2 separate regions of the Homo sapiens genome follow, and region 1 is linked to region 2. Evidence: fine-mapped expression QTL. A gene starts in region 2. The other region holds a variant in brackets. All regions are shown on one strand. Distances are from middle to middle.

Region 1 (2,904 bases), 190 kb before region 2:
TTAATGAGAAACAAGGGTAGGGATGGTACCATGTGTGTTTGGCCACGTACCTAGCTTACCGTGGCCACCCAAAGATTTTCAGTGGCCAGCTCGCACTGGTTGCTGCTTTTATGGCTTCTTCCATGGACACTTTCATTGGCTATATCCCCTTTGCTGACCTAACTTCTCACAGACATTTCTTTAAACACAGCTTTATTGAGGTATAAATGACATGCAATAAACGTCACATGTTAAAAGGATATAATTTGGCTGGGTGCGGTGGCTCACGCCTCTAATCCCAGCACTTTGGGAGGCCAAGGTAGGCAGATTGCCCAGGAGTTGGAGACCAGTCTGAGCAACTTGGTGAAACCCTGTCTCTACCAAAAATACAAAAAATTAGCCGGGCATGGTGGCATGGACCTGTAGTCCCAGCTACTCGGAAGGCTGAGATGGGAGGATCACTTGAGCTCAGAGGGGTTGAGGCTGCAGTGAGCCGTGATCACACCACTACACTCCAGCCTGGGCAACAGAGCAAGACCCTGTCTCAAAAAGGATACAATTTAACATTGTACCTGTGAAATCATCACCACAATCAAGATGAAAAATGTGTTCATCACCCACAGGAGTTTTCTCAGGCCCCTTGGTAATCTCTCCCTCCTGCTCCTTCCTGTCCCTACCTCACACCCCAGGCAACCACTAACCTTCTTTCCATCACAATAGATTAGTTTGCATTTTTAAAAATTTTATATAAATGGGATCAAAGAGTATATACTTTTTATCTGACTTATTTAGCAAAATGATTTTGCGATGCATCCATGTTATTCGGTATACCAATAGTTCGTCCCTTTTTATGGCTGAGTAGTGTTCCGTTGGCATTCATATCGCTCATCCAGAACACCAAATGGTATTGTTTTATTTATGGCAGACATCAGGGGATGAAGGGAGAACTAATCCTGTCCATCCTGGTTTATTGGAGAGGGAGAAAAAAAAAAGTGAGGAGATGGGGAATGGTGCGGAAATCTAAGTAACCACAGAAAAGAAAAACAAAAGGATTAAAGGAGCAGAGAGCAGGGCTTAGAAGTAAAGGTTAAAGGAGTCATTAAGCCTGGAAAGGAGAAAACTGAGGGATAATTGAGAGCTGTGACTTTTCTCAAATATACAAAAGGTTATTTTTAAAACAGGCAACTGAAGAAGAAATGAACAGGCTTGGCTTACGAAGAAAGAGCTTGAGGAAGTATAAGGGAAAGTCCTGAGGGGAGGCTTGACGGGATCCCAACCCGAGTGGCCGATGAGACTATTGGGTGGCAGGGGCTAGATCAATGTGGCTCCAGGGTCCAGGGCAGCCATGTGATTGTTACTAAGCTGAGATTTCTTGAGAATGGAATGA[C/G]CTTTGTACTGGTAACATCATTCTTCTTGAAACACCTCTCTTCCTAGGCCAAAATCCCATGTCGTGAGTCCTCGCTCCTGAGCCGGCACTAACGCCCCTCTCTCTACCCCCCACCTAGGGACATGCCAGCCCAGGCCTGGGACCTGGTAGAGCGAATGAAAAACAGCCCCGTGAGTACAGGCCCCCAGGCCACCCCTGAAAGGTGCCCATCTCCTGCTGGCTGGGGAGGGGACAGCCCCATAAGGGTCCCTCTCACCACAGCACTTCCTGCTTTGGGCTAGCCAAAAGATCCTCGGAGAAGCAGTCCTTACCAAGGAGGCGCCTGCCCTGGCCACACTCCTAGACGCAGGCTGTGGCACCCCTCACCCCAGGGCCGGCTGCGGGAGGGCAAGGTGGAACAGGGAGTTGGCTGAGGTGGTGGCCTTGGCCTCTGACAGCTTCCTGCTTTAACCAAGAGGTGGCTTCCCAGAGCCCTATTATGTAAATGCAAGGTTCTAAAAATAGGCTTCTCATTCCAATCCAGTTCTGCCTCCTTCCCCTCACCCTGCCCCTCTGAAACTTCTCACTAGCACTTTTTTTTTTAACCGTTCAGTGTTTATGCCTAGGAATTCAGCTCCCGGTGGGATTCCTATTATGGAGGTGGCCAAGTGGAAAGCCAACTGCTTAGAGGGCCTCCCAGCCCCAACCCCGCTTCTCAGTCCACGCTGGGCTCTTCCTCCAGTCTCCTTCCCCCGACCCTAAGAACTCATCCCAGGGGCAGCTTAGGGCCTTTGCTTCTAGCTGCATCCTTTGCCTACAGCTCCCTGGAAGGCCTTCATTTGGGGGGACGTGGTAATCCCCTCGGCATTTAATGGGCCAAGGATATGTGGGACACATCCACATTCTACTTCTCCAGGGACACAACTTTCTTAAGATTTCAAGGGGAAAATAGCCCTCCCTTGTGTAAGCAGAACCCCGTCCCCCGCCAGCGCCCACCGCCAAAAAAAAAAAACATCCTCTCTGTGGAGCACCTTATCCTAGCACCAATTGAGGGCTGGGAAGCCCCACTTTGTTGCTTTTCTTTTTTTTTTTTTTTTAGACGGAGTCTCGCTCTGTCACCCAGGCTGGAGTGCAGTGGTGCGATCTCAGCTCACTGCAGCATCTGCCTCCTGGGTTCAAGTGATTCTCCTGCCTCAGCCTCCCAAGTAGCTGGGATTACAGGCACCTGCCACCAGGCCAGGCTAATTTTTGTATTTTTAGTGGAGACGGGGTTTCATCATGTTGGCCAGGCTGGTCTCGAACTCCTGACCTCAGGTGATCCACCTGCCTCAGCCTCCCAAAGTGCTGGGATTACAGGTGTGAGCCACCGTGCCTGGCCCAATTTGCTGCTTTTCTCTGTTACAGTATAAATAAGACAAAAGGCACTTGGAGGGCGGGCGGGCTGGCCCAGTAGCAACATTTGTATGTGCCTCCCACCAAGGCCTAAACTCAGGATCTTCTGTCCCCTCAGGACATCAACCTGGAGAAAGACTGGAAGCTGGTCACACTCTTCATTGGGG
Region 2 (2,904 bases):
CCCTGATAGCTTAATGAATATTTATGTGTATTTGCTGGCTTTTATATGCAAATTTTACATGTTTCCTTTGTAAAGATTTTGGGATCCTAAAGAACCTTCTCATAACTGTACTTTGTGCGTTATACAGCCACTTGCATTTCCTTCATGGCACAACTCACTGTGCCTTGTATTTTAGTTGTGTCCATATCTGTCTAGCTTGGAAGCTCTAGAAAGGTAAGGCCATGTTGTCTTCATCATTGTGGTACTTGCCATGCCTCTGTGTTTTTCATGTAGCGGACATTAATTGTTCAGTAAATATTTTATACTCGAGGCTGGAAATTAATCATCACAACACCGGTACCTTGCAAAAACAAGGGGAAGAGCAGAGAGAAGTCAGGAAGGATCCTTAGGGAAAAGCTAGAGGAATGAAGCTTGAAGCAGCCATTTTCCTCAAGATTTTCACAACCAGTTGATGCTTCTTGGCCCATTCTCCCATTTATAGGCCAGGGAGAAAGAGTCAAGGGCATGTGTAAGGAAAAATAAGTTCCCAGTTGGCCCCCTCCTCGTACTTGTAGGTGAATTTGTCATTATTGTGCTGTGTGTGGAAGCACAAGAAGGAAGGAATTAACTCGTTCTTCAGAACTGCTGATTGAGGAGCTATTTGCTGGAAGTACCACAAGTAGGCAGAGCCAGGTTGCCTTTTAAGAGTAATCATTGTATTAGCCAAAAAATCTGGAAGCAATCCAAATATTGAAATGACTTAAATGGTCCATCCACTCTGGAATATTATGCAGTCATTGAAAACGTTTCGAAAGACTAGCAACATGAAAAAAGCCGTGATATGGAGACCAAAAAAAAAAAAAAAAGATTTACACTGGGTGTGGTGGCTTAGGATTGTAATCCCAGTGGGAGGATTGCCTGAGTTCAGTTCAAGGCCAGCCTGGGCCACATAGGACTCTGCTCTACAAGGCATGTTTAAAAATTAGGCGGGCGTGGCGGCACCTGTGGTCCCAGCTACTTAGGAGGCTGAGGCGGGAGAACTGCTTGAACCCGGGAGGCAGAGGTATGCAGTGAGCCGAGATCGTGCCACTGCTCCAGCCTGGGCGACAGAGCGGGACTCAGTCTCAAAAAGAAAGAAAAAGCCGGTTATACCTTAGGAGGGACATAAGGAAAGGATGGGATCAAAAAGCTGTTTAGAATTCTTTTTATTTGTTCATTCAACATGCATGTATTAAGCACCCACGTAGTCAAAGGCTAGGACAAAGCCAAAAAGATTACTGCTGCAGATTCACAGTTACAATAGAATGGCCCCTTCTCACAAGAAGCCACCGTATTCACACGTTGTGCTTTTCTCAGTTCAAGCGGCCTCTTCCTTTTGAGTAACCAGGGTAACCACGCTGTGCCCGCGTGTGCCGGGCGGGGAGGGGAGGCCGCAGCCCCAGCCCCGGGGGCCTGGTTGTCTAATCGAAGGGAAGTAAACGGCCCCAACGCAAGCCTGACTGCGAGACGTGCCCAAGGGAGGTAGGTCGAATGAAGAGGGTTGTGTGAGTTTTGCGCGGGCAGGCGGGATAACGGAGGAGGGAGGCCCGCGGCCGAGGCTCGGGCGGGCGGGGGGCAGGGAGGGGCGGGGTTCGCCGGCGCGCACTCCCAGGCAGGCCCCGCCCCCTCGGCCGGCTGTGCGCGCTGATTGGCCCCTGCCGGCCTCGCGCTCCCTCGCTCCGGGTTGGCGGGAGACCTTAGAGCGGGTACCGCTGCTGGCTAGCGACCGACGAGCAACCGTCTGAGGCCAGGAGCGCTGCGACGGAGCCTTGACCGCCGTTGCCCGGCCCTCTCCCGCGCAGCCCCGGGCTTCCGCAGGTACCTGTGCTCGCCCCCGGGAAGGGGCCTCGCAGGCGAATCTCCAGTTTCGAGTGTGCCCGGTCCCTGGGTTCGCTCGCCGGCGACCCCACCGCCCGCCTTAGATGAGAAGGCAGCGCTCCAGCCTCGTCCTCACGCCGCCTCCCGTGGGCGCCCTCAGCTGCCTTCGCGGCGACGACACACGCGCTCCCCGCAGCGGGCTCTGGGCTGAGGGACCTGGCGAGGGAGGCAGTGGCCGCGCAGGTTGGGGCTTTGGCCGCCCTCCGCCCGGCGGCGTAGCGGGTGAAGGTTCCAGGGGAAGGACGGGCAGGGCCGATACCGGAGGCTGCTCCCGAAGCTCGGCCGTCTGCTCGGAGGGAGGGCCCTGGGCAGGCGCTCCCGTCTCCACGTGTGCCTGCCGCCTTTATTGTGGGAGGAATGGAGATTTGGGGGGTCTTTTTGATAAATCCTACCTCCTTATGTCCCATTAAACACCTCTTTTTGTCCCCAAGATCGTCTGCCCCAGAATTTTGAGATCTGAGCTGCTGTGTCTCAGTACCAGGCCCGTAGCTCATTTCTCAGAATTCACGAAGATTCTCTTACATGACATCCAGTAGGACTGGAGGGCCCCTAGCCTCAATCTTTTAAAAAGCCTTATGCCGAGTTGGGCGAATCCTTGAGGCCAGGATTCGAGAGCAGCCCACAGCGAAAACCCCGTCTCTACAAAAAAATAATGAAAAAAAAAATTAACCGGGCATGGTGGTGCGCACTTGTAATCCCAGCTACTTGGGAGGCTGAGGCGGGAGAATCGCTTGAACCCTGGAAGCGGAGGTTGCAGTGAGCTAAAACCCGTCTCTACAAAAAATAACTTAAAAAAAAAGTATCCTGGCATGGTGGCGGGCGCCTGTAATCCCAGCTCCTCGGGAGGCTGAGGCGGGAGAATCGCTTGAACCCGGGAGGCAGAGGTGGCAGTGATCCGAGATCGCCTTATAGCTGGGGTTAGCTGGTTTTGTTTTCTTGGCAAGGTGACGATAAGTAATACTGGAGTGCTTACTATGTGTCAAGTGTTTTACACATGATTTTATTTAA

The links. PIP is the estimated chance that this variant, and not a neighbour inherited with it, causes the effect.
Region 1: its variant is the best candidate, but not a certain one, in a credible set for the expression of SPDYA in whole blood (TOPMed, PIP 0.61).

The regions. Positions count from the first base shown.
Region 1 is chr2:28,623,573-28,626,476 of GRCh38, forward strand. It overlaps PLB1 (phospholipase B1), which reads left to right. Exons shown (of 58, transcript NM_153021.5): 50 at 1,485-1,536; 51 at 2,856-2,904. Among named protein-coding and RNA genes, the nearest start is that of PPP1CB-DT, 130 kb to the right of the region's middle. RefSeq lists enhancers at 1,258-1,407, 1,498-1,657. The variant C/G (reference allele first, on the strand shown) is at 1,367.
Region 2 is chr2:28,809,112-28,812,015 of GRCh38, forward strand. It overlaps SPDYA (speedy/RINGO cell cycle regulator family member A), which reads left to right and starts at 1,723. Exons shown (of 8, transcript NM_182756.4): 1 at 1,723-1,836. RefSeq lists silencers at 1,324-1,473, 1,504-1,753.